Linked DNA regions of Homo sapiens: region 1 is linked to region 2. Evidence: fine-mapped expression QTL. A gene starts in region 2. The other region holds a variant in brackets. All regions are shown on one strand. Distances are from middle to middle.

Region 1 (4,396 bases), 130 kb after region 2:
ACTCTTTTAAAAGTTGTTTTCAAGGGCTAAGAAATAGCATTTTGAGGTAATAATATTTCTGAATTTTATGTAATTCATATTTTCTAAATTGTGTATAATTCAGTGTTTTCCTTATTCTAATCAATCCAAGATACATTTGTGAATATATTTCTATGTTCCAGATACTACTTATATTAACTTCAGTATATTAATTGAAGAACTGAGCCCTGAAACTTAAGTTTTGCCCAGGTCACATTTGATGGCTAGTGGCAGAGTTGATTGGTTTTATATAAATTGATCCCTTTTTTTAACAGTTACAATTTTGAAATATTTTATTTTATTTTATTTATTTTTGAGATGGAGTCTCACTCTGTTGCCTAGGCTGTAGTGCAGTGGCATTATCTCGGCTTGCTGCAACTTCTGCCTCCTAGGTTCAAGCAATTCTCCTGCCTCCCAAGTAGCTGGGATTACAGGCGTGTGCCACCACACCCATCTAATTTTTGTATTTTTAGTAGAGATGGAGTTTCACCATGTTGGCCAGGCTGGTCTTGAGCTCCTAACCTCAAGTGATCCACCTACCTTGGCCTCCCAAAGTGTTGGGATTACAGGTGTGAGCCACTGTACCTGGCCATTGAAAAATTTTAAATTAATGTATAATTTGTATACATTAAAATTCACCTTTGAAAAATATTCAGTTCAATAAATGTTGAACTGCGTAGGGTCATGTAACCACCACCATAGTCAAAATAAAGAATATTTTCATTAACCCCTCAAATTCACTCTTTTTCTAAGTGTTTTAAAGTTTTAGATTTTATTCTTAGGTCTGTGACCCATTTTGAGTCGATTTTTGTGAAAAGTGTGAAGAAGTGTTGACCTAGTTTCTTTTTTCTCTCCTTCCTTCTTTTGCAAATGAATGTCCAATTATTTGGGCGCCATTTGTTGAACTGCCTTTTTGTCTTTGCTGAAAATCAATTGACATATGTGTACACCAAAAATTTCTGAACTCTCTCTTTTATTTCATTGATGGGTATATCTATAAACCTCACAAGTTTTAAATTGATTAGTGTGGTTAAGACCTCACACTTACTGTCATCACTATTTCACCACTTACTTGAGCTGTGACATGCCAAAAAAGTACAAAGCAAAGCTATTTCTCCCTATATTTTTGACTTTTTTAAATGCCTCAGACAACTGTAACTCATTGACATTTATATCTCAGAGCTAAAATACAGAGATTACATTTGGATCAACACCTTCAGTACTTATATCCTGAAACTAATTATGTTGCCAGTATAATGAAATGAAAATGTTAACATGTTTAAGCCTGTCATGTGAAAATATTTCAGATGTCACAATGAAACCATTTATGCCATCCTTGTCATGGGTTGTCTCTGGTCCTATAATTACTTTCTGGCTTCCAGAAAATCCGTTTGAATATTTAAAATATTCAAGAATAAAACATTACTGAGAAAGCAGAGATGGTTCTTTCTCTGACCTCCTAGTAAAAGTGTCTTTGTTTTTGTCTAACTTCATCTTGCCTGCCCTGAGTTTGAATTGCGCATCAAGATTGGGGGTACCCTGACTTTTTCCTTGCCTACATCCAAAGCAAGACTTCCTTGGTTCCTTTGACAAGAGCTGTAGTCCACCAGATGATTTAAATCTAAGATACTCTTTCTTTCCAAGTCCATACTTAGTTGTAGGTAGATTTTGTCTCTATTGGCAGTGGTGGTGTCGGGAGTAGAGATAGAGCACCAACCACTAAAAACTGTGCTCCTCCCTTTATCTCCAGGATCTGGAATTCTGAATTAGTCACTCCTGGGCATAGCCATGGCTGTTGGGGGAGAGGAATGAGAGGGGAAGTTTTTCACCTTGATCCATCCTGAGAACCCTGATCTCATCTGTTCTATTCACCAGTAGCTGTCATTCTCAAAGTACCATTCGGCGGCTTTCTTCGGCTTTGGAAACTTTCATCTCTGCCCTGGCACTCTTCACAGACTGAAGCTCCTTCCCACTTTGTACCATGCACATGGCTCAGCACCAGATTCCAAAAAGCTGGAGCTGGGCTTACAGATAGGAACATTTCTGCACCTTCTGAGGGTTGCACCAGGTTG[T/C]CTTCACTACACTGTGGTGTTACCTGTTTGCTAAAGCCCTGGGCCTGTCTTCTGATTGACTGCTTGTGGAGTGTGACTCTGAAGTTACTCTGTCCCAACACTCTTGGATGACTCACAAAAGGCAAGTTATTGCTCTTTTCTTGATGTCATTTCCCTCTCTCCCTGATAAAGTGAGTAGTCCTCCTTATCACCCCTTTGCCGATGTCAGAGCACAACTCATTATGCCAGGCTTGGGGGTTTACAGAGTTCCTCAGCACTTTGCAACACTCCTCCTCCCCACTCTACCCCAGTGTTATAACAGACCTTCTTAGCTCCCTTTTCTTGAGGGCATTACAGCCAGGAATAACTAGCTGAGTGGCGCTAAATGAAATGTATTCTAAGCCTCCCATTAAGCCACCCACCCTCATTGTGCTTATGGTACCTTATTTATAGGGACTCCTGTAATTGGATAACATCTCTCCCCTTAGTTCTCTTCCTTTCCCTTCAAGCAGAAGCCAGCTGGGGTCAGAGGAGAGGCTGCTTTCACCTGCAGTCTCCATCACTCCGTCTGGCTTTCCAGATCTCAGTCTTATAGGGGGACACCTGTGCAAATGATTCCAGGGCATTTAGTCATGCCTGCCCTTGCCCTGTTTCCCAAGACACAACTGCCGGAGGCAGCCATTTAAAAATGTGGTATGTAGTCTTTTAGACTCCTTCATACATTTCCCTTTTTTACATACATGGGGTGATACTACATACTGTAGTCTTCTCTGTTTATGTACTCCTATATTGATGGCATTTTTCATGTTCTCAGCTGCATGAAATTCCATCGTATAATTCTAGCATGGTTTACTTCACCAGGTCCTTATTGACTGTTGTTCCTGTTGCTACAATTTTCAGATGTTGTGAACAACGGTCCCATGGACGTCAGTGTATATACAGCTTTGTACACCTGAACAATGATTTTCTTAGACGTGGAATTGATAGAACTTTCATTTTGATACACTCTACCCTTTAGAAAAGTAGCACCATTTGGCTGGGTGCGGTGGCTCACACCTGTAATCCCAGCACTTTGGGAGGCTGAGGCGGGCGGATCATGAGGTCAGGAGATTGAGACCATCCTGTCTAATACGGTGAAACCCCGTCTCTACTAAAAAAAATACAAAAAATAAGCTGGGCATGGTGGCGGGCGCCTGTAGTCCCAGCTACTCAGGAGGCTGAGGCAGGAGAATGGCGTGAACCCGGGACGCGGAGCTTGGAGTGAGCCGAGATGGCACCACTGCACTCCAGCCTGGGCAACAGAGCGAGACTTCATCTCAAAAGAAAAGAAAAGTAGCACCATTTATGCTCTCACCAGCTGTATATAAGGGTCACCTTTTCCCCCACACACTTGCTAGCAATGAACTTTAGCCTTCTTTTTCATCTAAAACCATACCCATACCAGTGGAAACATGGTATTTTATTGTTTCAGTTTGCATTTCTGTAATCATTCATGGGACTGAGCATCATTTAATATACTTAATAGTCATTTGGATTTTTTCTGTGAATTGTCTGTTCGTATCTTTTTTCTACTGTGGTGTTCATCTTTTCTGTGTTGCTTTGTAAGAGTTCTTTATACGGTAAAAATATTAACTCTTTGTTTTGTGTATACATTACAGATATTTCCCCCAGTTTGGTGTTTGTTTTTTAATTTTGATTCAATGTCTTTTAATACATGGACCTTAAAATTTTTATGCAACTAAATCTGTTGGAGTTTCCTTTGTGGCTTTTGGTTTTTTATTCTTTTCCTGATCAAATATTATAAAAATATTTAAATGTCTTTATTGTTCCAATGATTTTTAAAAATCTTTTACATGTGGAAGATCTGTCTTGTTATGAGGATGATAATGGTAGAATGACTTCCCATGTGAATGGTAGAAGGGTAATCTGAAGTCACCTTTTGGCAGGTCTGGAATCTTATGAACATCGCAGAAACTAGGTAGAACCTAGAGCCCAGTTTGATGACATTGGTGTGTCTACACAGAGGTTTACACAATTTCCTCAAGTGTATCATTAGTAAATGAGAGGTAGAACCTGTGATTCTCTTGTTATTGTTATTAAGTTGAGCAAACCTTTTATTTCCAGCCTTAGTCAAATCTATACCAACTTTATCATCTGTAAGCCACTAACAAGTCAGGCTAGATTTTTCTGTATAAAGGGAAAGAGTCCTGGCTAAGCAATATGTTAATTACTATTGTAGCCACTCTGAGAAACACAATGGACACCCTTTCAAAATTTGTTTCAGATGTTGAGACTGATGATGACACACACACACACACACGCACACA
Region 2 (4,396 bases):
GGGCCAGGGAAAGTGTCACAATACTTAGTCCATATCCTCCTGCCGCCTTTCAAGTTTCTTCTCTCTTTTACCCACTCCTTCTCTGAGTGCCAAAACTCCAATTTTAGTACTTCTATGCAAACCAATTTCACCACCCAGGTGAATTAGCTTGCACTCCCCAAATTTTGTTACTGGACTCTTTCCTTTGTAAGGGATAAGAATTTAGCCCAAGCCAGCTTAGGGCAAAAGGAAACTTTTGGCTGGGAGTGGTGGCTCACACCTGGAATCCCAGCACTTTGGGAGGCCAAGGCGGGCGGATCACAAGGTCAAGAGATTGAGACCATCCTGGCCAACATGGTAAAACCCCATCTCTACTAAAAATACAAAAATTAGCCGGGCGTGGTGGCGCACATTGGTAGTCCCGGCTACTTGGGAGGCTGAGGCAGGAGAATCGCTTGAACCTGGGAGGTGGAGGTTGCAGTGAACCGAGATGGTGCCACTGCACTCCAGCCTGGCAACAGAGTGAGACTCTGTCTTAAAAAAAAAAAAAAAAAAAAATTTGGCTCACAGAATCAAAGGACAGACTTAATCAAACTGCAGGAAGAGAGGGATTTAACTGGAACCAGGGAATTAACCCTGCTTCTCTCATTGCCTACTGGCAACAAGTCCCAATTCTTATCTTTTAGCGTTCACGCACTGGAAAGATGCAGTCTTAAATTTCTTATGGTTCAAAGCTCAAAAATGCTGGTAAGGCTGGGTGCAGTGGCTCACACCTGTAATCCCAGCACTCTGGAAGGCCGAGGTGGGCAGATCACCTGAGGTTAGGAGTTCGAGACCAGCCTGGCCAACATGGTGAAACCCTGTCTCAACTAAAAACACAAAAATCAGCGGGGTGTCATGGCAGGCGCCTCTAATCCCAGCTACTCGGGAGGCTGAGGCAGGAGAATCGCTTGAACCCGGGAGGTGGAGGTTGCAGTGAGCCTGGATCTTGCCACTGCACTCCAGCCTGGATGACTGAGACTCCGTCTGAAAAAACAAAAACAAAACAATAAACCCTCCCAACCCGCCAAAATGCTGGTTAAGGATTCTAAATGGCTCAACTTGGCCAGCTGTCTATCCCTGAACTGCCTATGGTGTACATGTTCCTATAACAGCACCTCCCAGGGAAACCAGAGGGGCTGCTTCCAGGTAAAAGGAGGAATTTCACCATAGACATAATACTTTGGAATAGTTTTGGCTATCCTTAAGTAAAACACGGGATGACTATTTCTCTAATTTCCACACTAGTAGTTTAAACAAAGTAGTCATCAGACCACAGAGGAGGGGGCAATAAATACTGCCTGTGAGGTAACTCGGCGAAATACTTTCACAGAGGCCTCATGAGGTGAGCATTTAGCATCGTGTGTGATGTGTGTCAAACCAAGAGGGGATTCAGGGAGACTTCCAGGCTTGAGCAAACGGACAAATATACCTCCTCTTCCAGACCTCTCCTTTCATATGGAAAAAATTCGTTTGGGACCACCAGAAAACAAAAGATAAAAGTATCGTGTTAGAACAAGGATGGATTAAAAATGACCTTTGCTTGAACTGAAACAGAAGCTATGTGCATAAGTGACTTAACTCCTCTGTAACTTGGCTTTCTTATCATTTACACGAGGGTGCTAACAGTACCCTCACAAGGTTCAAGTGAAGATTACATAGGACAATCCCTTAGTCAATGTCTTGGTACACTGTAAAGGCTCAGTAAATGCTGGAAAATCATATTAGCAACTATTTTATACCCGTAATTGTAGCTGGAAGATTGTATTGGATGCTAAATACCGGCTAGATTCCATTCGGTAACTATCATAATTATTTATTTGCATAACAATCAAATTATTGGTGCAAAGCAGCCATTATTACTGTAAAATGCTTTAAAATGCTCCTTTTGATAGTCCAGGTACGTACTGCAGCACAAAACTAGGAGAAACCAGGAAATGGAAGTAACGAGTAAGTTTGGATGCTTCGATTCTACCCTAGATTGAGACGGGTGAGCATAGAGGCAAAAAAAGACATTTTCTTCCAAACAAGAGGTGACCAAACGGGCAAGGGAGACCTCCTCCCGGGCATGCAGAGCGCAGCGATTCTGTGCCCAGGGAGCCGGAGGGCTGGGGCTGGGAGATCCCGGCGGAGCCCCGGCAGAGCAGTCGCCCGTGAGCCCCCGCAACTCAGACGCGCTCGGCCTCGCGCTCCGGGGCTGGGACCACCGAGGGCGAGCTGCAGCCTTCGCCACCCGGTCCGCCGCCGGACTCCGCCTCCCACAAACAGCCCGGCAAGGCCCTTTTCCGCCGCTCCCTCATCCAGCGAAGCCTCCTTCCCAGCTTCCCCGGCGGCGGCGCCGTGACGTCACTTCCGTTCTCCAGCGCGCACGTGGGAGGAAGTGCTGGTGCCCTCTGCCGCTGCTCCCGTCTCTTTGGTTACGCTCGTCAGCCGGTCGGCCGCCGCCTCCAGCCGTGTGCCGCTATGGGAGTCCCGGCGTTCTTCCGCTGGCTCAGCCGCAAGTACCCGTCCATCATAGTCAACTGCGTGGAAGAGAAGGTGAGGAGGCGCCAGGCGGCCGCCACACTCGAGCCCGGGCCCCCGGCACGTCTAGGCCGCGGCCCATGGGCTCCGCCGCCTGCCCCCGGGGAGCCTTGCCGGAGCTCGCGCCCTGCTGCCAGCCTCGCGAGCAGTCGCAGCCCCACACGCGATGGGACGCGGGCTGTGGGATTCAGCACCCCGGGGGCGAGGAATTCAGGACCCTCGGCGGGGCAAGGGCCTATAGGGTTCCGAACTCGCAGGAGGGTCGCTCCTCCCCTACTCGCTTTTTCCCGGCACCGGAAGGCCCCGCCCACTGCTTTGTTTCCTCTCCAGACCGCGCATTTTGGGTCTCGGAAGAGGTTCAGAGGCTGTTGTTGAGCAATGCATGCCAGGTCAGCTGAGCTAGCGGGTTATGGATGCACGGATTCGGAGGCCAGCTTTTTGACAACCTTGTAAAGGAATCCCTGGCGGCGACCTTTTCGTTGTTTACCAATTGTGCCGGAAAGGTTTTCTCCTAGTGTTCAGGACCATTTGTTGTTCTGGTTAGATTGGACGCTGAAAGCAGTATGTCAGGTCCAGGATGAGCGCTATAGAATTCTGAGAAGTTACCCTTCTCTGTGTGCCCTGACTACTGAACGGGGTGGGTGCTTGTTGAAAATTTCAAGATTACTGGATGTACTTGAGCAGTACAATTTTTGTTGTTAGTTAATACGTAAGTAGATTTTTGGCCATTATTGAGTTTTGTTTTTATTGTTTTCGTCATTCCATGCGGATTCGATTTTGTGCTCTTAATTAGAATTTCTGGATTGGAAACGTTCAGAGGCACATCACGCGTACCTCACTCCTTAGTTTTTGAAGGCAGTGCTTGCCTGTCACTGTGAACTTATTTCTGCTTTTTTTTTTTTTTTTAACTTTCTTGGCTTCTATCCAAGGAGGAACCAAAAGCCTTGTCTTAGTGACATTCCCACTATTTCTTGTTTTTTTCAAAAAGCAACTGCTAAATTGAATACTTGTTTCCTTTGTAAAATTTTAATCGAACTTTATTGAACTTTACTTGCACGTGGGTTAAACAAAAAGCAACAGTTCTTGCTCTACCCCTTCTCATCCCATTTCTCCACCTTTAACTGTTTTGGTTCTGTCTCTAAGTATCATACTTATACGTTATCACTTTTAGATCTGTTGAATTCTAGCTGGAATAGGAGAGGATTTAGTCACCTATTCAGCCCTCCCTCTATACTCTTAATGGAGTAAATCACTAGATATATATTTTTATTGGTAAGCTTTATAACTAAGTAATTTGCCTTTTTCATTCCATCGCCTGTGTAACGTATCCCTTGACTCAATGCTTTCTAAGGTCGATCTTAGCTTTTCTTCCCTTTCACCTCAAGTTTGTCAGCTGTACTTTTGCGTTGTGGGCATCCAAAATTAAATGATCAGGGCTTTGACTATACAGATTTAAAATGCTGAAAAATCAGATAGGATAGTTGACTATTGACACTGTGTAGATTCAGGTTATGTACTGTGATTTTGTTTTTTGTGCTGCTTTTGTCTTTTTCCCTGGGGCTGTCTTTCTTTTTCCACTTTACATCTTGCCGCGCCCGGACTCTATTTTACCAGGTAGTCTATCAAGAGTCATCTTTCTTCTTGAATAGTCCTTCTTGGGGTCTTATTTATTTTTGTTGCTGTCACACCTGGCTATTCTGTAGGCTTGCTGGAAAGCTGCATCTGGGATTTTATTATTATTATTGCTATCATATCTTTCTTCAGTGGGAGGTACTGTTTTCTGGATCATCATCTTACTTCATTTGTTTATTTATTTAGAGACGGAGTCTCGCTATGTCTCTTAGGCTGGAGTACG

Alleles and levels. Alleles are on the strand shown, and positions count from the first base shown. SD is a standard deviation of normalised expression in the study named.
In carriers of allele C in region 1, the expression in fibroblasts of the gene that starts at base 2,414 in region 2 tends to be lower than with T alone (small effect, 0.19 SD a copy in GTEx).

What was found. PIP is the estimated chance that this variant, and not a neighbour inherited with it, causes the effect.
Region 1: its variant is the best candidate, but not a certain one, in a credible set for the expression of XRN2 in fibroblasts (GTEx, PIP 0.60).

What each region holds. Positions count from the first base shown.
Region 1 is chr20:21,431,309-21,435,704 of GRCh38, forward strand. All of the region lies in intron 2 of LOC105372558 (a long non-coding RNA gene), which reads left to right. Among named protein-coding and RNA genes, the nearest start is that of NKX2-4, 36 kb to the left of the region's middle. RefSeq lists an enhancer at 2,083-2,377. The variant T/C (reference allele first, on the strand shown) is at 2,091.
Region 2 is chr20:21,300,918-21,305,313 of GRCh38, forward strand. It overlaps XRN2 (5'-3' exoribonuclease 2), which reads left to right and starts at 2,414. Exons shown (of 30, transcript NM_012255.5): 1 at 2,414-2,556. The coding sequence starts at 2,482. RefSeq lists a silencer at 2,112-2,241 and an enhancer at 2,962-3,011.